Homo sapiens: one gene and its partners. The protein of the gene in region 1 interacts with the protein of each later gene in a pairwise test. Each region holds a gene or a part of one and is shown on either strand. Other genes may lie near its edges. The genes, in order: SMAD5, BCAT1, SOX7, MTMR10, CXXC5, RYR2 and PPIL4.

What was found.
Region 2: the proteins of SMAD5 (region 1) and BCAT1 interact in a two-hybrid assay, tested with the Homo sapiens proteins (one large-scale study listed by BioGRID and IntAct).
Region 3: the proteins of SMAD5 (region 1) and SOX7 interact in a two-hybrid assay, tested with the Homo sapiens proteins (one large-scale study listed by BioGRID and IntAct).
Region 4: the proteins of SMAD5 (region 1) and MTMR10 interact in a two-hybrid assay, tested with the Homo sapiens proteins (one large-scale study listed by BioGRID and IntAct).
Region 5: the proteins of SMAD5 (region 1) and CXXC5 interact in a two-hybrid assay, tested with the Homo sapiens proteins (one large-scale study listed by BioGRID and IntAct).
Region 6: the proteins of SMAD5 (region 1) and RYR2 interact in a two-hybrid assay, tested with the Homo sapiens proteins (one large-scale study listed by BioGRID and IntAct).
Region 7: the proteins of SMAD5 (region 1) and PPIL4 interact in a two-hybrid assay, tested with the Homo sapiens proteins (one large-scale study listed by BioGRID and IntAct).

What each region holds. Positions count from the first base shown.
Region 1 is NC_000005.10:136,139,345-136,142,844, reverse strand, and holds part of SMAD5 (mothers against decapentaplegic homolog 5), read right to left. Parts: intron 1-3,500. UniProt on the Homo sapiens protein: Transcriptional regulator that plays a role in various cellular processes including embryonic development, cell differentiation, angiogenesis and tissue homeostasis.
Region 2 is NC_000012.12:24,942,602-24,946,101, forward strand, and holds part of BCAT1 (branched-chain-amino-acid aminotransferase, cytosolic), read right to left. Parts: intron 1-3,500.
Region 3 is NC_000008.11:10,723,268-10,727,511, reverse strand, and holds the end of SOX7 (transcription factor SOX-7), read left to right. Parts: intron 1-845; coding exon 846-1,774; 3' UTR 1,775-3,744; downstream 3,745-4,244. UniProt on the Homo sapiens protein: Binds to and activates the CDH5 promoter, hence plays a role in the transcriptional regulation of genes expressed in the hemogenic endothelium and blocks further differentiation into blood precursors.
Region 4 is NC_000015.10:30,946,629-30,950,128, forward strand, and holds part of MTMR10 (myotubularin-related protein 10), read right to left. Parts: intron 1,844-3,500; coding exon 1,674-1,843; intron 673-1,673; coding exon 502-672; intron 152-501; coding exon of another isoform or gene 98-151; exon of another isoform or gene 1-97.
Region 5 is NC_000005.10:139,679,349-139,681,865, forward strand, and holds part of CXXC5 (CXXC-type zinc finger protein 5), read left to right. Parts: intron 1-498; exon of another isoform or gene 499-592; intron 593-1,015; 5' UTR 1,016-1,175; coding exon 1,176-2,099; intron 2,100-2,517. UniProt on the Homo sapiens protein: May indirectly participate in activation of the NF-kappa-B and MAPK pathways. Acts as a mediator of BMP4-mediated modulation of canonical Wnt signaling activity in neural stem cells.
Region 6 is NC_000001.11:237,831,836-237,834,488, reverse strand, and holds the end of RYR2 (ryanodine receptor 2), read right to left. Parts: intron 1,938-2,653; coding exon 1,842-1,937; 3' UTR 501-1,841; downstream 1-500. UniProt on the Homo sapiens protein: Cytosolic calcium-activated calcium channel that mediates the release of Ca(2+) from the sarcoplasmic reticulum into the cytosol and thereby plays a key role in triggering cardiac muscle contraction. Aberrant channel activation can lead to cardiac arrhythmia.
Region 7 is NC_000006.12:149,518,544-149,522,043, forward strand, and holds part of PPIL4 (peptidyl-prolyl cis-trans isomerase-like 4), read right to left. Parts: intron 2,629-3,500; coding exon 2,517-2,628; intron 1-2,516. UniProt on the Homo sapiens protein: PPIases accelerate the folding of proteins. It catalyzes the cis-trans isomerization of proline imidic peptide bonds in oligopeptides.

The DNA of each region.
Region 1 (3,500 bases):
TGCCATTTAGCCTATCACTTAGTTTTATCCTATATTTATTTCCATATGATAGCCAACAGAAATAGGGCATTAAAATTGAGTTTAAAAAAATGTACACCAAGCACAGAGAGCCAATAATTGAACAGACAGGAAGGTATGCTCCTTCTTACACTAGAAACTGGAGGGACTTAACAGCTATGAACCCATTATCTGCTATTATCTTGGCCTTTCATAGTATACCTTTGGTTTATGAAGACTTGACTTGATAATACCCTTTTATTGATGTATTTTGTCATTTCTTAGAGAAATGACCTCAAAGCTAGAAAGAAAACCAAGGTAATCATAATATTTAGAAATTCCTGTGTACGTGAGGTTCCCTGATTCTTCTGAAAAACTGCAACCACTGACTGAACACAGAACGTCATTAGTGTACCAAAAGAGATGCAGTGGTACCTCAGCCATAAATGAAAACCTTATAAAATTACGGTATATCATGAATTACAAATGAATCTATCACATTACAAAACACACACACACCTCACCTCTCTTTCAGCTCAAGCATCCCTTCTTCGGGGAAGTCTTCCCAAACCGTCCTGGCTAGAAGTCCCCCTCTTATATGCTTACCGCATCACATACTCCTACTTTGTAGCACTTACCACACCTATGTTTTTACATTTACCTTTCAAATCTGTCCCCACAAGAATGTAAATTCCACGAGAAGAGCTGTATCTGTTTTCACTCATCACTGTAAGCCTAGTGATACATATGCTCAATAAATATTTGTTTAATGAAAGAAAGGGTTTGTGATATTAGCTCTGGTGGTGGGGTTAGGTGTACTTTTCACTTTCTGCTTCATCTAATTCTATATTTTTTAAAATAAACATATTTCTTGAAGAGTCAGAGGAAAAACAGGTTTCAAAATTAAAGTGCAGCTATACCTCAGCCATATTATGAACCCTTACTAAAGAGAGGATTTACATTATCATGAGTCATTCCTGCTTCAAAACAATTCTCTCTAATATACTTGGGGTTATACAAATTTGGAGGTTGAAACTAAGAAAAATCAAATCAGAAACTAGGTACAAATACTTCCATAACTATAGTACTCTAGGTTAATCAACAGAAATACAGAAATGATTATCATAAGGTACACCTACTTCTTTAAGTATATGTGCATTAACTGACTCAGCAGCTATAACAGCCATGAATCATTAAACACTTATTGAGCACCTACTAACTAGCAGACATTGTAGGACATGCAGGGGTTTATCAGCACTAGCCAAGGGTGAAGGAATAAATGAGAAGGCCTTTTTCTAAGTCCCATACAAAGGTACTATATGAGTGAAGAGTGGGAATAGCAAAAATGCAAACGGGACAGAATCTCCCTTCACAGAATAACGTAGCACGACAGACACCAAACTATACCCCTATATGTAAGTACAATGAGATAAACTCAAGTTACTAGAGGAACACAGAGAGACAGAGAAAGGGCATGTAATCCAGGTATCTAGCACTTTTCACAGTGTGTCCTGTTACTACAAATGAGCTGTTGCTCCTCAAAACAATGAAATCAAACTCCAGAAGCATTATTCCTGCTCCCAATAAATATTAGTAAGAACTCATTCTTCAAAAGCATTTATCTTCCTATACTGGAATGTCTTTTGAACCTCAGATATTACAAATGCCATTTTCTGCTTATACCACTTTTCTTAATCCCTGGCCACTAATTTTTAGCTCTATCGTTATTTAAGTCTCAGCTTTAGCTCTCATCCCAGATACCTTCCCTGATCACCCCATAATCCTATATAGAGTTTCCCTAATCTCTAATCCAATACTATGTTCATTTTCTTCACTGTATTAACTGATTCATAATAATTTGTTCATTTACTTTATTTCTGTCTCTCGCACTAGAATATAATCTTTAAAAAACAGTACCACATACATTACAATAACTTGTCAAATTCATTCAAGTCATTCATCCAAAAGAATATTTATTAAGATAGCATTTTAGGAGCTGGGAATATAGAAGTGAATAAAAGGAACCAAAACACTTGTCTTCATTTAGCTTATATTCCAGCAGAAGGAGGCCAACGAGATATAGTAAATGATATGTTTGTTAGGTGAAAAGTGCTATAGAGAAAAATTAAAACAGGGGAAGGTGGACAAGAAGTCCTGGAAGAGAGGTGTAATTTTAAACAGGGTGGCTGGGCTGGGTCTCACCAAGAAGGTGCCAACTGAGTTAAAATGTTAAGGAAATAAAAGAGTGAGCCAACAGGCATATATCTAGGGGAAAACCATTACAGGTAAAGGCAACAGGCAATGCAAAGATCCTAAGGTAGGAGCATGTCTGGCATGCTTCTGGCATGAAGAGCATATACTGGCTAGAAGACCAGTATAGCCTGAGAACACAGTGTACGAGGGGGAAAAGGTAAGGAGTGGGGTCAAAGAGATACCAGAGAGCCAGAATGGCCATGCTGGATATAAAGGCTTTAGCTTTTACAGTACTCTAAGGAAACTGTGAACTCAGTGGAGAGCTCTGAGCACAGACATGATAGTTCTCGACTTACACTATTAAAGAATTATCCTGGGCCGAGGTGGGCAAATTACCTGAGGTCAGGAGTTCAAGACCAGCCTGGCGAACATGGTGAAACCCCGTCTCTACGAAAAATACAAAAATTAGCTGGGTGTGGTGGCATGTGCCTGTAATTCCAGCTACTTGGGAGGCTGAGGAAGGAGAATTGCTTGAGCCCGGGAGGCAGAGGTTGCAGTGAGCCAAGATCATACCACTGCACTCTAGCCTGGCCAACAAAGCTAGACTTCATCTCAAAAAAAAAAAAAAAAAGAGTTATCCTGGGCCAGGCGTGGTGGCTCATGCCTGTAATCCCAGTACTTTGGAAGGCCAAGGCAGGAGAATCACTTGAGCTCAGCGGTTCAAGCCTAGCCTGGGCAACATAGTTTTTAAAACTCCATCTCTACAAAAAAAAATTGTTTTTAATTAAAAAATTAGCCAGGTGCAGTGGCACATGCCTGTGATCCCATCTACTTAGGAGGCTGAGGTGGGAGGATCACTTGAGCCCAAGAGGTCAAGGTAGCAGTGAGCCAAGATCATGCCACTGCACTCCAGCCTGGGTGACAGCACAAGACTCCGTCTCAAAATAAATAAATAAATCCTGGCTGGTATGTTGAGAATAAGCAGGAGGAGGGGTGGACAGCAATGATAAAAGCAGCGAGACCAGTTCAGAGATGCAGTAATCTAAGGGAGGGGAGAAGATGACGATGGCTTACAACCAGGGTGATAGCAGTGGGGTGGTGAGCAGCAGACATATGAAAGACAGTAAGCTTCCTGATGAAGGAGATCATGGGGTGTATGAGAACAAAGGAGTTAACAATGATTCCAAGGTATCAGCCTGGACAACTGGAAGAATGGGGTTTGACATCAACTGATTTGGCAAATGCAGATAAGAAAGCTAAAGGAAGATTCAGGGTTAAGTTTTATACACATTAACCATATGAATAAAATG
Region 2 (3,500 bases), on another chromosome or scaffold:
GCTGTGGCTAAGGTGGAGTCACCTGCAAAGAACATGGCCATACTGGCCTTCTCCTTTGACAGGTACAACAGGTAGGGGAAGTTATCTAAGTGGGAAGTAGGAAGGCTAGGCACCCCAAACTCCTACACTCCACTAAGAAATTGCATATTAACCTTGGCTAAGAAAACACCCACACACACTTCCAAACTAGTTGAAGATCGAAGAAATTAGGGTGCATATGGTATGAACCGAGTTCTATTCTGTAACTATACACCTTAGATCTTGATGGGATGAAACAGAGAAGAAAGTGATAACTTATGTGCTGTGAACAAACAAACCATTGGTTGTTTATCTCTTGAACTAAAAGTGGAGATTTTCAATATTCAAATGGCAGCGTGAAGCTTCTGCTTATATAGTTTCATATCTCAGCTGACTGCAAAGGCAAGAGCCAATAGCCCTCCACTGCTCTGAATAACTAAACCATTTCAGTCTTTTCTACCTGTCTTCCATGCTATATGCACTCTATTGTCCTGGCTTTAATAACCAATAATTTAGATATAAAACTTTGTGTCTATATGTGTTTGCACATTTTGCAAAAGATTGGCCATACTTTTCATAAGATTTACAAACTGGCCCAGTGCAGTGACGGATGCCTGTAATCCCAGCACTTTGGAGGCCAAGGTGGGTGGATCACTGGAGCCCAGGAGTTCAAGACCAGCCAGTGCAACATGGAGAAACCCCATCTCTACAAAAAATACAAAAATTCACCGGGCGTGGTGGCACATGCCTGTGGTCCCAGCTACTCAGGGAGCTGAGGCAGGAAGATCACTTGAGCCCAGGAGGTTGAAGCTGAAGTGAGCCATGATTGTACCACTGCACTCCAGCCTAGGTGACAGAATGAGACCCTATCTGGAAAAAAAAAAAAAAAAAAAAAAAAATTTACAAAGTGGTGTCAGACCCAAGAAAGCCTAGAACCTGGAGAGATCAATAGCACAATAGACTAGGAGTCTGTCTACTTTCTCATTTTGCTCTTTTATTTGTATTATTTATTTATTCTTAAGCAATTCTAGTAAGTTTTCTGATGCTTTCCTTAGAAGAATGTTTTCAGTTAAAGTAGTTTGAGGCCGGGAGCGGTGGCTCACGCCTGTAATCCCAGCACCTTGGGTGGCCGAGGCGGGCAGATCACGAGGTCAGGAGATCAAGACCTTCCTGGCTAACATGGTGAAACCCCGTCTCTACAAAAAATACAAAAAATTAGCCGGGCGTGGTGGCGGGCGCCTGTAGTCCCAGCTACTCAGGAAGCTGAGGCAGGAGAATGGCGTGAACCCAGGAGGCGGAGCTTGCAGTGAGCCGAGATCGCACCACTGTACTCCAGCCTGGGTGACAGAGCAAGACTCCGTCTCAACAAAAGAAAAAAAAAAAAGTAGTTTGCATGGCATTTAGAAAATGGAAAGCAAAAGCACCAATTAAGCAAGGAAGTCTTGCCTCAAACCTGCATGTGTTTCTTCTATAAACACCAGCACTATTCTTATAAGTGTACAGAGCACTCACCGACACTGAAAACCATGGAACCCTGAGTCATGTATTATGCTTCCCCATGTAGACTTCGCAGCTGTCTTTTAACTCTACCTTTTATCTTCAAAGTTCAAGGAAACATTTATTATGATTTCAAATTCCTGAACTCACATCTAGTCCTAAAGTCAAAACAATATAACTTGGTATCTAAATCAACTGAAATGAAATGAAATGCACTTGGCAAAATCACCCTTTTATGTAGTGGTGGAATGCTAACAACTGCCCTGTGACCATCCTGTGCAAATCCACCCTTGGCCTCATCCCAGGATATACCCAAACTTCGTCTCAACTGTGTCTCTTTGTCAGTCACGTTAAGAGACAGCTGTGGAATGTTTGGTCTAGAATATCCCAACAGGTGCTCCTTCCGTCTCAACTTCTATGGAGTCAAATAGAATTTGATCTGTAATCCTATGTCCCAGGCTTCCTAAGTCTTCCTAAAGCAGATATCCATTTATAGTCAAAACAGCAAAAACAGTTCTCACACTGAGGGATAAACCGTAAATGCAATTGATGAAACATTCAAATCTACACACCGAAATAAAGAACTGACAAATGAATTTGTTCTTTTTAGATTAAAGACTATTCTTAATGGAACTAGCTGAGTTTTGCAAGTATTTCACAACTTTCAATAAGAAAGAGCCATATGTTTTTCAGTATGACTTCAGTTTATTACTTGTAATTTCCTCTATTTTTTTCTTTATTGGTCTTCCCTGTTTCCATTCTTCCATTTTCCTGTATTTTTGGGACATAACTGTCTCTTTCTTTTAGAGTTTGTTTTTCCCATTAATTACTGAACACAAGAAAAATGTTTTGCAAAATAGTCTTTCCCACCAAAAAGGTATAACAGTAGAAAAACGTTTATGTGACATGCTATGCTGTATTCATAAGGTAATCTAATTTCCAAGCTATTTTAAGGATATGAGTACTCAATTTTTAGGGGAAAGATAATTTAGCTTTGTGGACTTTAGAGCACAAATTATAAGCATAGTTGAAACTGATACCTGAACCTGGTGTTCCAGAAAAGACAGATTCTCCTTTGCGTTCACCATTGACATTGTGAGTCACTGACAAGGTCTTATGATGAAACTGTTTACCAATATTTGCAAAGTCATGTTTATGAATAAAAGCACCTAAATGCTTAATTTTGAAACATTTAAAAAATGTGAGTTGCACCTCACATTTATTTCTTGGCTGAACTGCATACAATCCCATTGCAGTGGCCTTAGTTGAATGGACAGAGGCTCAGGAAAGGCCAACAGTAGGAACATTTACCATATGTTAGGTGAAATGTATAGACCAGTTGGACAGCTGTTAAGGGGATAATGTTACAATACAAAAGCTGCCTATATTTTTGACAGTAAAATGAGCAGATCAGCCATAGTTTCCTCCTGTGCTCAAAAAGAATGATAGCACATGCCTGTAATCCCAGCACTTTGGGAGGCCGAGATGGGCAGATCGCTTGAGGCCAGGAGTTCCAGACCAGCCTGGCCAACATGGCAAAACTCCGTCTTTACAAAAAAATACGAAAATTAGCTGGGCATGGTGGTAATCCCAGCTTCTCAGGAGGCTGAGGCACAAGAATTGCTTGAACCTAGGAGGCAGAGGTTGCAGTGAGTAGAGATCACTCTGCGGCACTCCAGCCTGAACAACACAGTGAGATTCTGTCAAAAAAAAGAAAAGAAAAAAGAATGATAGCATCATATAGAAAGTAGAGGATAGCTGGCACAATTATGTCTATCATGGAAGGTCCCAGATTCTCACTCTCCAGTATAGCAACCAAACCTTCCTGAGCATAAGGCTGATCATGCCACTGGGTTTCCCTGGGGTGGGCATCTGTTATTTAAAGAAACTGTGGTTACCAACACTAAAGGGAAATAAAGAAAGTTCTTTATTTTCCAACTTCCTATACCAGTTGAGAAGAGGCCATTTAAAGAAGCTGGCAACCT
Region 3 (4,244 bases), on another chromosome or scaffold:
GAGAGTGTCACAATATCTTTATTTTATACTGAAGAAAATAGAGACTCTGGAAAGTGCAGGGAATGGCTTCTGCATGGAGATCTGTGGCTAAGCAGGTGCCCTGGCACCGTCAAGGGTCCCCAAAAGATGGCTGGCTGGAAGTGACGGTTTGCATGTATATGTGTGTGCATGCATGTGTCTGGGTGTGCGTATATGTGTTGCAAGCAGATGCTAGCATTCTGGCCTCAGTCATCCAGCAGGGTTCTATTCGACCTTCAGAGGTAAGGAATAGGTATTTGTTAACCTAAGTGAGAATCTCTGATTTACTGACATCTGTGAAAGTATTGACTGAGCCTGGGTTCCCTCCCAGAAAGGGCTGTGAGATTTATGCCATAGGTAAATATGATAGTATCTCTTTAGCCTGCACTAATCAATGAAGGCAGAGATTTTCATGAGAATACACAAATGTTTAGAATGGACCCTGGAAGGGTAAAAAGAGCCCCAATCAATATCGTGATCATTAGATATTTTCTTCCCGTAGCTGACATATGGTCAGGTGGGCTTTTCACTGGGGACCCCGCATTGTAGTGTGGGCACGCTCTGGCGGCTTTTATATGAGAGGTGATGCTTTCTGTGTGCACCGTGCACGATCTGGCTTTCTGGATGCAAGCAGAGGGGTTGATTTCGCTTCACTGTGCCTGCAGGATCTGGGCTGGGAAGAGGGTGCAAGAGATGCCCGTGTCCTCTGTGGCTGGGAGGGGGAAGGGAGGTGTGTGTGCATGTGCACGTGTGTGTGCACGCGTGTGCATGTGCGATGCCTGCGGGGCACAGCACTGAGCATGGCCTCCTCTGCCTTGTGTGAGCAGGAAAGTCGTGGAAGGCGCTGACGCTGTCCCAGAAGAGGCCGTACGTGGACGAGGCGGAGCGGCTGCGCCTGCAGCACATGCAGGACTACCCCAACTACAAGTACCGGCCGCGCAGGAAGAAGCAGGCCAAGCGGCTGTGCAAGCGCGTGGACCCGGGCTTCCTTCTGAGCTCCCTCTCCCGGGACCAGAACGCCCTGCCGGAGAAGAGAAGCGGCAGCCGGGGGGCGCTGGGGGAGAAGGAGGACAGGGGTGAGTACTCCCCCGGCACTGCCCTGCCCAGCCTCCGGGGCTGCTACCACGAGGGGCCGGCTGGTGGTGGCGGCGGCGGCACCCCGAGCAGTGTGGACACGTACCCGTACGGGCTGCCCACACCTCCTGAAATGTCTCCCCTGGACGTGCTGGAGCCGGAGCAGACCTTCTTCTCCTCCCCCTGCCAGGAGGAGCATGGCCATCCCCGCCGCATCCCCCACCTGCCAGGGCACCCGTACTCACCGGAGTACGCCCCAAGCCCTCTCCACTGTAGCCACCCCCTGGGCTCCCTGGCCCTTGGCCAGTCCCCCGGCGTCTCCATGATGTCCCCTGTACCCGGCTGTCCCCCATCTCCTGCCTATTACTCCCCGGCCACCTACCACCCACTCCACTCCAACCTCCAAGCCCACCTGGGCCAGCTTTCCCCGCCTCCTGAGCACCCTGGCTTCGACGCCCTGGATCAACTGAGCCAGGTGGAACTCCTGGGGGACATGGATCGCAATGAATTCGACCAGTATTTGAACACTCCTGGCCACCCAGACTCCGCCACAGGGGCCATGGCCCTCAGTGGGCATGTTCCGGTCTCCCAGGTGACACCAACGGGTCCCACAGAGACCAGCCTCATCTCCGTCCTGGCTGATGCCACGGCCACGTACTACAACAGCTACAGTGTGTCATAGAGCTGGAGGCGCCCCGTCCGGTCAGCCCTCGCGCCCTCTCCTTCTTGTGCCTTGAGTGGCAGAGGAGCCGTCCAGCCACACCAGCTTTCCTCCCACCGCTCAGGGCAGGGAGGTCTGAACTGCGGCCCCAGAGCCTTTGGCCTAAGCTGGACTCTCCTTATCCGAGTGCCGCCTCTATCCCCTTCCCCACGTTCCAGCCCCTGCAGCCCACATTTTAAGTATATTCCTTCAAGTGAGTTTTCCTCCAGCCCCTGAGAGTTGCTGTCTCCCAGTGGAATGTTCACTGACGTCTTTTCTTGGTAGCCATCATCGAAACTAATGGGGGGACAGACTTGATAGCCAAGGTCCCTTCTGGTCCAGTTTTCTGATTTAGGGTTCTCTCAAGATTAATAAAGGAAGATGGGGAAATTTGACTCATTAATGAGCTCGCTAACCTACGATCTGGTGATAATTTTGTGTGCACAGCCCAAGGACCACGAGGCTTTCTGCACTTTCTGCACCCCCTTCCAAAGTGACCACAAAATTTCAAAGGGACTCATACAATTTGAGAAAAAACAGTCAACCTGATTTGAGAAATTAACCAGTATGGCTAACTATATCACAGAAAATGGGATTGAGTTAAAACTATTTTATTTTAAATATACATTTTAAAGCAGTTCTTTTTTTTTGTTAATTTGTTTATTATACACACACTTCAAGAGAATATGCACAGTCTAGGCCGGGCACGGTGGCTCACGCCTGTAATCCCAGCACTTTGGGAGGCCGAGGCATGTGGATCACCTGAGGTCAGGAGTTTGAGACCAGCCTAGACAACATGGTGAAACCTTGTCTCTATGAAAAATACAAAATTTGCTGGGAGTGGTGGTGCATGCCTGTAATCCCAGCTACTTGGAAGGCTGAGGCAGGAGAATGTCTTGAACCTAGGAGGTGGAGGTTGCAGTGAGCTGAGATTGCACCATTGCACTCCAGCCTGTGCAACAAGAGTGAAACTCCATTTCAAGAAAAAAAAAAAAAAAAGAATATGCACAGTCTGAATGTATACCAGGAGTGTGAGAGACACATGCCCACTTCATGCAACTCCTAAACTCAAAGTCTAAATCAGATATTTTTATTAACAATGACAACTTGTTGCCAACTCCCTGTTTCTAATGACCAAAGACCCAGGGTACCTAAAAGGACTTTGCAACCAAGCAAAGTCACTGTCTTCAAATCTGGATACACACTTTCCCCTCTGTAGATTCAAAAGGTGCTTCCTTCCCGGCTGTCTCCAGCTTCCTTACTCTCTTTTCTGGGATTTCTTTTTCTCTTCTTTCTGCTCTTCCTCCACTGCTGAACTGGTCCCTAACTGAAACAGCCCCTGACTTATCCCAAGCATGCTTCCTTTAGCTGCTGTGAGAATTTGTCTTCCTCACCAGCCAGGTCCTCAGGCAAAGTCCTCAGCCAGTGCTTTAGAGCAACTTCCCGCAAATCAGAAACTCACTGTGATTCCAAAAATGTTTCTGAGCCCTGGACCCCTGCCCCCAAAATATTTTCATCTTTCCCCCAAACCTCCTTTAAAGGAGCATGCATAACAGTGTGCTGAAAGACAGTTGTTGGTTTTTTGATTTTAGCATATTATTTCCTGTATGAAATATGTTTTATATAATCTCCTATTATTTTTATCTTATGTTTTGTATTGTTGATAAATCCTTTTTGTCCTTCTAAGATGTCCTATTGTAAAATCACTTATAAGGTATGATTACTCTTTATGCTATTACTTTATATGCCATTTGGTAATAAATAGTAAATTGTTGATGATATGATTGACTGATGCGCAGTCCAGAGCATGTATGAATAATCTCATAAAACAGTATCACAGACATTAAGCTAAACTGTTTCGTTTTTTTGAAAGAACAACTCATACTTTGGAACAGTTGTCAATATTAATTTGTTGCAAATATTTAATTTAAATAAACATTTTTGTACCATGACTGTTCTATCTTTTGAAATATAGTTTTGCAAAAAGAAAAGGTTTCCAAGCAAGACATAAATGTTACATCGGGTGCTACTTGTGGTATTGATCAACATGTTTTCTACATCGACTTTTTTATTTTAAAAAGTTGTTATCTGGTAGGGATGGTTTATTTTATTTTATGAGTTATGCTAAAGAGATAAATCCAAATTTTACGCATTGGAATCTGCTGTTTTTATTGACAATGAAAGAAAATGTCAACTCATGACCTACATGTAGAACAATTTTCTCCTTGTGACGACTTTACACTCGTAAAGTGGAATGAGGTGACTATGAGGCTGTCTGAAGAAGGAAAGTAAGTTTTGTCTACTCGTTTGCTTACTTAAAACTGTCACAGCTATTTTTTTTTTTTTTTTGTATTTTTAGTAGAGACGGGGTTTCGCCATGTTGGCCAGCCTGGTCTCGAACTCCTGACCTCAGGTAATCCACCCGCCTCAGCCTCCCAAAGTGCTGGGATTA
Region 4 (3,500 bases), on another chromosome or scaffold:
GGGTGAAATGGCACTTTGGTTCAGAATGGTTTCAAGTTTGGCTTGAGACCCTGCTTAGTCATAAATCCTCTACATCAATGAATTGTGACCAGAAACTTCAAACTCGTGAAGGAAAATAATCTTGTTTTGTACAACTTTTTATCCTACTGACCTAGGAAATAAATGTCGTGTAACAGGGCTTTTGTTTTTTACTACCCAATAGCCCAAATGTGAAATATAAATACAAAAGCATGACATTTAAGGTGGTTAAAGTAATTTACATCTTTAAAGGGGTTTACTACAAAACATTTACATTAGAGTAAAACAAAAAATGTTCATTCATAAAAATAATTTCCTAGATTTTTGTGTCTTCAAAATAATCCATTCAGAAATTTCAGCTGAAAATGGCAGTAAGAATTTTAAATCATAAGATTTTAAATAGGCAGTGAATTATACTTCAATTATGCCTCGATAAAGTTGTAAAAACAGGGAAAACGTAGCCACAGCCACAGGGTTGCTTACCGTGCTTTGCTTCACTCGCTGGTGAGGGGAGTTGAACAGGAAGGTGCCAAACAGTGAGATCCGGGTGCTGTCATACAACACTGCCAGGTAGGTTTCGGAGAACTCAAAAGCTGCAGGATATTGTTCTAACAGCTGCCAGGTGGCATCCAAGAATAGCAAAAATAAAGGAGACTGGCAAATACAAAGAGACAATGGGATCATTTAATGTTATCCTTCAGCCGTTCACATTTACTTCAAAATGTACTGCTGATGTTAAAGAAGAGATGAATGAGAAAACATCGAAGCCTAAAACACTTGCCTTCTAAGCTGAGCTATACACATCTATCAAACCCAAGAAGTAACATTCAACCGTGATAAACATCACAACCCTTATTTGCCCAGTACATGTAACAAGTTGAAACAGCAAAGCACACAGTTGAGCGGGTTGCCACTATATGAAGGGGGAAGAGCAAAATATGTGTTTAAGCATGTCTTAGAAACAATTCTTTAGATTATATAACAAAACAAAACCATCAACCAAACTTCTCTAATGTTTGGTTGATCCTGTAGGCTCAGCATCCAGAAAACATCCCCATATTTCAGAAAACACTTTGGGATGAGCCTAGGTCACGTGGTGTGTCCCCAAGTGCAGTAGCGGGTGACCACTATTTTTTATGAGACACCACAAGTCAAATGGCGCTCTCTGAAACAACCTTCTAAAAACTGATCTGACTGACCTGCCTGGCCGGTAAGATATTTGTAAGGCCTTCCGCAGCCTAACTAGAGATCCGAGGCAGCCACTAACTCCACAGCTGTTGCAAAGGTGGCCCTCTCAAACTTTTCATCTTAACCTATGTATCCCATTTTAAGAAAATATGATATTCCAAAAGTGATTTTTCAAAATAGCCAATGTGCTTGTTATCTGTTTTTCAGTATTTTATTCAGAATTTTTTCAGTAGTTTTCCACTTAGACAAATTCAATAGACAACTTTTAAAAATTTCACCTTCATAGTTACGATAATCTTTATAATAAGTACATCAATTTGAACTCTAATCCATTAGTTAGCTTTGGACTAAGGAAATTAAGTTGTACTAAATACAGTATTTTTTAAAAGCCCCTTCATCTTTTAATGACACAAATTTTATTTTGTGTATCCTTAAAGACTGATAAAAAGGCATCAAGATTTTGTTACCTCTTTCTCTGATCTCTTTAGATGGTTGCATCTGTCTAGAAACTGATATCCTGCCATGACCCACTCCTTCTGTATCAGACTCTGAAATCCAGTAATTGTCCTAAAATAGGGATCCAGCATCACTTGAACAAGAGAAGCTACACAACAGCTCAAGTCTCTTCCTTCCTCCTCTGTTAATAAAATGGAAAGAAAATGATTACAACATAGAAAAATGCTGAGAGAGAAAGGGAAGGAAAGGTAAACTAGATAATTTAGTATTCTGCACACCTAGGCTGCCTTCCAAATCTGTATAAGGAAATTTTACTGGATTCCAGCAACTCTAAAATATTACAGACTTGTAGATAAACTAAATTAGCATTTAATAGGAGATGGTCTTTTATACATGGATATTTGCCAGATAATAGAAGCTCATCACTCATACTTTTTACATTCGAATGGTTTGTGGTAGAAAATCCGTCTAGACTCCATTCTACTGCTCTTTTGTCAAGGTATTAAGTATAAGGTAATCTTTCTACTGACAGGCCACATGGCAATACTGAGAAGTGAATGGGGAGAGTGGGACTGTTCACTACCAACTGAAGCTGTGGCAAACGATTCCCTCCTGTCTTTTATAGTTGTTGTCCTTTCCAATAAGGCCAGAATTGCCACGCTATCAAAGTCAGCCAGGGAAATCAGAAGACAACTATTGACCAATATCCCTTATGATTACAGATGTAAAAATCAATAAAAATATGAGTAAACCAAATTATCCAGGAATGCAAAGTTGGTTTAACATCTGTCAATTGTAGTAACGTACCACAGTAATAAAGGACAAAACCAACACGATTATCTCATTAGATGCGGAAAAAGCATCTGATACAATTCTACCTTCATTCCTGATTAGGAATAAAAGTAAACATATTTAAACTGATCAGAGACATCCACAAAAACCTACAATTAATGTTATTCCCATTTCACTGGTGAAAGACTGGATACTCTCTCCCTAAGATCAGGAAGATGATAAGGATGTCTGTTCTCTACACTTCTCCATCTCATTGAACTGGAGAATCTAGCCAGAGCAATTAGGCAAGAAAAAGAAAATAAAAGGCATTCAGATCAGAAAGAAAAAGGTAAAAACTGTCTTTGAAGACAATATGATCCTGTATGTAAAAACTCCTACGGAATCCACAAAATAACTACTAGAATTAATAAATGAGGTCAGTAAGGTTACAGAAATTCTGTACACAACAATCTGAGTACATAGTAAACCTGAAAATGAAATTAACAATTATATTCACAGTGACATAAAAATAAAATACTTAAGAGATTTAACAAAATAAATATAAGACTTACATAATAAAACACTGCTGATAAAATGAAAGATCTAAATAAATGAAGCAGCATAATTCATAACAGCCACAAAGTGGAAACAACCCAAATGTCCATCAACAGGTAAATGGGTAAGCAAAATGCATTTACAAACAGTGGAATACAATTCAGAAATAAAAAGGAAAAGATTGCTGATACACACTACATGAATGAACCTCAAAAACATGTATGTTGAATGAAAGAAGCCAGCGGCAAAAGGCCACATATTGTATGATTCCATTTATATGAAATGCCCAGAAAGGGAAAATCTAGAGACAGAAAGATTAGTGGCTGCCTGGAGCTGGGACTTTTGGGGTGATGAAAAATTTCCAAAACTAGACTCTGTATATTTACTAAAATTTACTGAATTACAAATTAAAAATGGGTGAATTCCATAGTATGTAAATTTTTAACAAACTGTTTAAAAATAAACGTATATAAAAATGCTAGTAAAATGAAGGTTCAGTGCTACTTCTGAGG
Region 5 (2,517 bases), 3.5 Mb from region 1:
GCCAGGGTGTGCACAAGCATGTCCTCTCACTGTGGCAGGGGACGGCTGGTCCTCTGGCCCTGTGCTGCTCGCCCTGTAGCAGGCGGGGAGAAGATCCCTGAAATAAGGGTTCTGCACTCATTGGCAAACTGGGTTACACAAAGGCAACCAGGTTCCTTTGCCTGCAGGACATGTCAGAGCCTTGAAATAACTGATGTGTATTAGTAATCCCCAGATGAGGATCCAGGGGCAGCCTTCCAGACTTAATGATCTGTACCATCAAGCACTCTTCTCCTCAGATGGAGAAGGAAGATTAGGATGTGGAGGTGGTTTTTTTCTTATTTTTATTTTTTTGACAGGATCTCACTCTGTCATCCAGGCTGGAATGCAGTGGCATGATTATAACTCACTGCATCCTCAACCTCCTGGGCTCAAGCAGTCCTCCCACCTCAGCCTCCTGAGTAGCTAGGACTACAGGCATGTACCACCACACCTGGTTAACTTTTGTATTTTTTGCAGAGATAGAGTTTCACCATGTTGTCCAGGGTGGTCTCAAAACTCCTGAGCTCAAGCGATCTGCCTGCCTCTGCTTCCCAAAGTGCTGAGATTACAGGTGTGAGCCACTGCACCCAGCTAATAAGCATCTCCAACACTCTCCCACCCCAGCACAAGAAGGACTGCCTGCTTCTGGCAGGTCTTCCTAGACCCTAGCAGAGCAGATTTGGGCTGTGGAGGCCTGGACTAGGGCCTCCACCATGCCGCTTGGTGGCTGTGTGTTCATAGACTGGTAGTTCTCCTAAATCTTGTTTCCCTCATCTATAAAGTAGATTACCAGCCACTGCTTCTAGAGTTCTTGTGGGTCTTAACTGAGATAGTACAAATAAGAAATTTCTCACCAGGATGGATCTGGTGCTTAATAAATGCCTGGTCAAGCACATGGTGGTCAGGATGACAGGACCGTTGATAGTGGCGGTGGTGGCGATGTTGAAGGGGGAGGTGTTCACTGCTGCCCTGACCCTGTATCCTCTTGTGACAGAGTGAAGACATTTCCACCTGGACACCTGACCATGTGCCTGCCCTGAGCAGCGAGGCCCACCAGGCATCTCTGTTGTGGGCAGCAGGGCCAGGTCCTGGTCTGTGGACCCTCGGCAGTTGGCAGGCTCCCTCTGCAGTGGGGTCTGGGCCTCGGCCCCACCATGTCGAGCCTCGGCGGTGGCTCCCAGGATGCCGGCGGCAGTAGCAGCAGCAGCACCAATGGCAGCGGTGGCAGTGGCAGCAGTGGCCCAAAGGCAGGAGCAGCAGACAAGAGTGCAGTGGTGGCTGCCGCCGCACCAGCCTCAGTGGCAGATGACACACCACCCCCCGAGCGTCGGAACAAGAGCGGTATCATCAGTGAGCCCCTCAACAAGAGCCTGCGCCGCTCCCGCCCGCTCTCCCACTACTCTTCTTTTGGCAGCAGTGGTGGTAGTGGCGGTGGCAGCATGATGGGCGGAGAGTCTGCTGACAAGGCCACTGCGGCTGCAGCCGCTGCCTCCCTGTTGGCCAATGGGCATGACCTGGCGGCGGCCATGGCGGTGGACAAAAGCAACCCTACCTCAAAGCACAAAAGTGGTGCTGTGGCCAGCCTGCTGAGCAAGGCAGAGCGGGCCACGGAGCTGGCAGCCGAGGGACAGCTGACGCTGCAGCAGTTTGCGCAGTCCACAGAGATGCTGAAGCGCGTGGTGCAGGAGCATCTCCCGCTGATGAGCGAGGCGGGTGCTGGCCTGCCTGACATGGAGGCTGTGGCAGGTGCCGAAGCCCTCAATGGCCAGTCCGACTTCCCCTACCTGGGCGCTTTCCCCATCAACCCAGGCCTCTTCATTATGACCCCGGCAGGTGTGTTCCTGGCCGAGAGCGCGCTGCACATGGCGGGCCTGGCTGAGTACCCCATGCAGGGAGAGCTGGCCTCTGCCATCAGCTCCGGCAAGAAGAAGCGGAAACGCTGCGGCATGTGCGCGCCCTGCCGGCGGCGCATCAACTGCGAGCAGTGCAGCAGTTGTAGGAATCGAAAGACTGGCCATCAGATTTGCAAATTCAGAAAATGTGAGGAACTCAAAAAGAAGCCTTCCGCTGCTCTGGAGGTAACGGCGCCTTAGAGGGAGGTGTGTGGGCTCTTGTGTCTGTCTGGCAGTCCAAACCCACCCCCATCCCCTGACCCCACTTTTCCTACCTGGGCAAGTGTCTGGGGGATGCCCCCTCCCAGTCCTTGGGGCCTGGGGGTCTGGCTTCAAGACACCAGTTTACTGCCCCAAAAGTCAGAGCCACATTCTGAGAATCCTATCAGGCCATAATTTGCAAGGCAAGCATAAAACTCCAGGCAAGGACCTAGCATTCTCAGCCAGGCCCTGGGATTCTGATTCCTCTCCTGGGTTCTGGGTCAGGTATTGAGATTTCCATACAGGTCCTAAGTTTCTGATGCTCAGACATGGCCTAAAGCATCCAGTCCATGACCTAGAACTCTGGGTCTCTCCCCTGCCCTGTTTAAGGGATTCTGTTTCA
Region 6 (2,653 bases), on another chromosome or scaffold:
TGCTGGTGAGGTGTAAGATGACGGAGAAGTCACCGGTACCCACAGCAGCACTTTGCACACAGCAAATGTTCAATTGGGTTTTGAATGTTTAATACACCACATGCTAGGGTACCGATTCTCTTTCATATTAAGACAGAAAATGAACTCCTATTATTATAGGAAATGAATTTGCCCTGAGCAAGGAAGAGCTTTCAAAAATGAGAGCTATATAAAAATTAAATAATCTGGGAGATAGCGATCTTTTTTTTCTGTCATTGGAGGTTTTCAAGAGGTCTGGCTGACCCATATAACAGGGAAATGACAGGGGTGGGCCAGGTGCCTGGTGACTCTGAGGCCCCACAATTATATACACAACAGTCTTAGAGGTACCAGGAAATCTGACAGCGTTAAAGGTCTCAGTGCAGTGTTTAGGATTGTCCTATATCCACCTCAAGTTAGAAGCTCAAGATTTTATGAGTCCCAGTTATAAGTTTTAAATGGAGAAAGAAGAGGATGAGAAAGTTAGTTAAATAGTTTAATCAGAGCGGTTTTACAGTTCTAAAATTAACAAGCAGACTTGTAATAAAAGAGCTCCAATGTTTGCAAAATGACCTTGTTTCCATTCTGAATCTGACTTTTTAATTGTAAAGGTTAGCATTACATTTAAAAGGACTCAAAATGGAAAAAATGGAGTGATGTATATTATCATCCGTGTTTTGTGATGCAACTGATGAAATCCCTGAATGGATATTGCTTCAGCTTTGATATTAAAAAATGGCCTGACAAGAAGTCCTTAATCAACAAAACTGATCACAGGTGGCTGAAAGAATGAGCAAAACCCAAAACTACTGTCAAGTTCATATTGTATCACATTGTTGGTGGATGACACTGGCTCCAGATATACAATTAAGCCCACGACACTTTATTACTATGAATAATTATCATGAAATTTCTCTCACGTTGATCAACTTGTTTCTGAAGGTTTTCTTTGTTCATTTAAACTTGCATAATAAACATGCAATGAATGGTTTCTTTTGAAAGTGTATTTTTTGCAGTCTTTTTGTTTTCATACAAAGATTTCATAAAGTTGCAATGTTGCATCAGAGCATTACCAAAATAATAGCAGGAGCATATGGGGGCGGGGGCGGGGGGGGGGGGCAAATGTGAATTTAGCTGAATGAGAAGAGCCTCCTTTTGTCCTGAGACACACCACCCGTTTTTTTTTTTTCTTTTTAAGTGCAAACTGCTTTTCTTACCCTCCCCCACTAAAGAAAAGACTAAAGGAAAAAAAAAAAACCTCACAAAATCAATCTAAGAAAAGAAAGGTCGACATAAAGAAAATAAAGATGTTTTTTCATGCACGTATCTTCTGCATAGCTCAACCCACATATAGTAAGGCACTATTTCCCTTCGCAACTGGTGTCCATGGCAATCTGTTAAGTGCTACAGTGCTCTGTGACCATTAGACAGACAGTTTCCTTCCAGGATGGTGAAATAAAGAGGCTGGGTGAGTGTGGCTGCCACGTGTCTCTGTGAAGGTCTCGTAGCTCGAGAAGACTCCGGGAGTCTCAGAAGAAAATCTATCTATGTGTGTTATGACAGTGTCCAGAATGGTTTTCTTTCCAGAATTCCTTTTTTTGTCTGAGTATGAATTTAGATTATTCTTCAGTCTTTAGTCTCAAAGTAAATACAAAAGGTGGGGGGAGGAAACAGCTCTTCCGAAACAGAGCTTCGATGCTCCCAGAAAACACACAACGCTGGCAATTCACAAAATCAGCAAAATGTTTCCAAGAGAGCAGAGAAATTGAGAGAGGGAGAGAGAGGGGTAGGGTTTTGGTTTTTAGAGGTGATTGGGTCTGAGTTTAATTTAGCTGGTCTTCATACTGTTTCCGGAAGCAATCCCCTGCTGGGAAAAATTCCCAACACCTTTCTTGATACATCTTCCAGACATAAGATTCCTGCAAAAGTCAAGGAAATGTATTAACATTTTCCCCAAAGTGTGTGCTAACAAAACATAAGGTAGAAACTCAATTCTGTTACCTATATCGCACGGAATAGAGAAGTCCACATTAATTTAGATGGTTCCTAACTAACTATACCAGACCTTAACGTCTCATAATAATCTTCATCCTGACCATTATAATGATAAAAATATGTTGGCTGGGCACACTGGCTCAAGCCTATAATCCCAGCATTTTGGGAGGCTGAGGTGGGAGGATCGCTTGAGTTCAGGCATTCAAGACCAGCCTGAGCAACATAAGAGATCTTGTCTGTACTAAAATTAAAAAAAAAAAAACACAAAAAAAAGCCAGGTGTGGTGGTGCATGCCTGTAGTTTCAGGTACTTGTGGGGCTGAAACAGGAGGATTTATTGAGCCCAGGAAGTCAAGGCTGTAGTAGGTCCTGATCATGCCACTTGAACTTGGCAAAACAGCAAGACCTTGTCTCAAAAAATATATGTGTGTGTGTATATATATACATTTATGCTTCTGAGGGTTCTCTTAAAATATCGTATCCTTCAAATTCAAACTACTAACAATCTGCACAGTGGAAGAGGAATTTCAAATAGCTTAAACACCTTAGGCATTTAACATGCATTGTACATAATACTTTGAAGTTCATTGGAAATCATCTATCTGATTAAACAAAGACATTATGCAATAATTAAGAACTCA
Region 7 (3,500 bases), on another chromosome or scaffold:
GGTAAGCAAAAAAGACAAGATCAATCTATTTGGCAATTCCAGAGACTCCAGAAACAAAAGTGGCCAGCAATGTTTCCCATAAATGTGAAACAGTCTACTGCAAGAGTTAAAATAACTGGTAATGGTAACAAACAGCCATCATTTATCATTGAAAAATTATTTGCCATCTGCCTGCCATTAAAAGTCTCACTATGGATGAAGCAGTTACCGTATAACAGAAAGGGCACCAGATTAATGTAAGAGGTTCTTGACTGTAGTGGGAGGTCCTAGGTAAGACACCACTTCTCTGCAATTCATTATCTTTATTTACATTATCTTCATTTATAAACTGAAAATAATACCAACATTTCACAGAGTTGCTGGAATCATCAGACTATAAAGGAAAGTTCTTAGTGCTGTGAATGGCACATTATACACATTAAGTTTATAAATGTGAATCAATAACATATATAATTATCTCAAAATTAACTGAGAATAATAAACTGTATGTTTATGATGGCATATACAAAACCAAAGCTTCTCCCTCCTATGTGACATTTTATCTTAGGAAAAAACATGAAGAAATTTATTTAAAAGTCACAAGAAAGTAGTAGTATTTATTCAATGGGTGGATGGGTTGAGAAGAAGACAGGATTGAGAGGGTAAAAAACAAACCAAATGTAGGGTCTGTCTAAATCATCTGTGTATGTGACTCTAGGTAAATCACTTCTCAAGATTATGCCTCAAATTCCATATCTATAATGAGGAATTATAATATTTATTTCATACACTTCCCAAATGATACAATTAAACTAGCTCTTTGGAAGCAGAGCTCTACATAAGAGCCACCTGGCATTACTACTGGCCAGAACTACACTGCATCAGGCCAGCAGCTCACCAACACTTTGAATATACTTACTGGAATCTTTCATTCACAAAGTTGTAATTTTCATATGTGGAAAAAAATCTTAGTGCTTCAATTTAGGTTTCACAAATCACTCAAACAGCACTGTCAAAAACTAGCCATGTGTTCTAGGAGGAGGTAAGGTTTCACAGGAGAAACTAATAGTACATGGAACTCCAATCCAAGTCACCCTCTCCTTTATCACAGAGATCACAGCTTCCACTCAACATTCCTTGCCTACTTTAGTCACATTAATAATTTCTTCCTTCTCTGAACTCCCATAAGGTAACAGAATCCACCAAACAATTCAGCAATTCACAACTAAATAGTGTTTTTCTTTCTTACTAAAAACAGACAAAAAAAACAGTTCATTAAAAGCATGGGAAATAAGTGTTATAGAAAAAGAAAGTAACCCTGAAATTCCCAGTAAAATTTAGCATTACATGTGAGTAACTATCAAAGTGAAACCTGTTAAAAACACTGCATCAAAAACCAAAAACTCGTATTATTTCAACATATGAGAGACCCAACTTTTAAGACTGACATGCTACGAGCAATGTATTTGACATATATGTATGTGTATGTGGGAAATGTAATATGTACAAAGGTGGAACATACTGCTATGGACATGGAAGAGTAAAAATTTAGAAAACCCATTAACAGGGCTGGTTCATTTTATATACTGATATGAACTGATCTCTTAGATACACTGTTAATTAAAAAATGCAAGGTACAAAAACAGTATGTATAGCCTGCATCCTTTGTTTTATATTTTCCTTTTTAAAAGGAGAAAATCATATATATATATATGCACATATGTATTCAAAAAATGTAGGGGAAAGTTAGTACCAATAGGTGATAATGGTTACCCTGGAAGAGAAATTAGATAGATGAGGAGCAGGAATGAATGAGACTTTTATCTACCTTTCCATGGACCTTTTCTATTTTGCATCATATGACAACTAAAACAAACAAAAAAAATTTAAGTTGTGCACCTAAAAGACTCAAAACACCATAAAGTCAAAATAATTACTTTGGAAACATATCATGTCTGCAGTGGGTAATTATTAGTAATTTATAATATAGTCAAACATAGAAAATATAATTTTTCATCAGTTTAAAATACACGCACAGGTGCACACATGCATGTGTGTGCACACACACACACACACACACTCTACCTCAGATTCTAGATAGCAGGTTTGTAAAATTACAAATGGCAGGAGTTACATCAATTAATATTTCTCCTAATTAACAGCACTCAATAAAAGGCTCATACAAGCATGAAAAGCATAACAAAAACAAGGCCGGGCGCAGTGGCTCACGCCTGTAATCCCAGCACTTTGAGAGGCCAAGGCGGTGGATTACCTGAGGTCAGGAGTTCGAGACCAGCCTGGCCAACGTGGTGAAACCCCATCTCTACTAAAAATACAAAAATTAGCTGGGCATGGTGGCACATGCTTGTAATCCCAGCTGCTTGGGAGGCTGAGGCATGAGAATGGCTTGAACCTGGGAGACACAGGTTGCAGTGAACCAAGATCGTGCCACTGCACTCCAGCCTGGGCAACAGAGCGAGACTCCATCTCAAAAAAAAAAAAAAAGCAGAACAAAAACAAAAGATAAACCATCATACCTTTTCCTTTCCATTTAACCTTTGCAACCGACTGGCTAAAATCCACATGTATTCTTCTGTCATCTATAAGCACATTGTCCATTTTGAAGAATGCTTTCTCACAATCTTCTTCCTGATAATAATTATAAAAACTCAAGCATAAATCTTTATGGAAAAGATTTCTGTAGCTAGAATACTGAAAATACAAAAAGTTTGTTGTTACAAAAATTAATGTTTGAATACTTATTACACACCCGATGCTGTTAAATGCTTTGTATCTATTACCTCAAATACCTCTGGTAACAACCCCATGAGGTACTATCCATTTTCTTAATGAGAAAACAGAAGTTTAGAGAAGTATAGAAGTTGTTGGCAAGGGTCAGAGCCAGGATTTTAGAGAGACAGTCCAACTGCAGTGAACAGATAAATATACACTTACTGACTGTATTATACAGGTTCACAATCCTTTTTACTCAAAATTCAAAAACATCCTGGAAAGTGAAAGTTGTGTTCCTAAGTTTGTTGTTAAAATTAATTTGGCAGTAACACCAAACCTAATGGTAGGTTATGACCTTTTTTTATCCACTTAGTATGAATATTCATTTGTTTCACTGCAGAAATACTTTTGTGACAGATTATGGAATGCTGACCCAGAAAGGTATTACATAATCACAGATGTAATGTGTATGTGTGTATGCATATATACAGTATTACCTTTCTGAATTCTGAAAAATTCTGAATTAGGAAGCCTAGTTATTCTCAAGGGTTTTAGATAATGAACTGTGAGACTGTAATACCAAGCTCTGTGCTACACAAGAATCCTTCCTGTCAGTAACTTCACAATTCTAAATCCCTGTTTCTGACACTGACAGTTACATATTTCAACTCAGTACTGACCAATTTTCTTTTACATTCCTGGAAACTTATTCTTACTAGAGATAATCCAAAGAGAAGCAGATAAAATAGTTATAATCATATTTATTACATGTCAATAATTAAATGAAT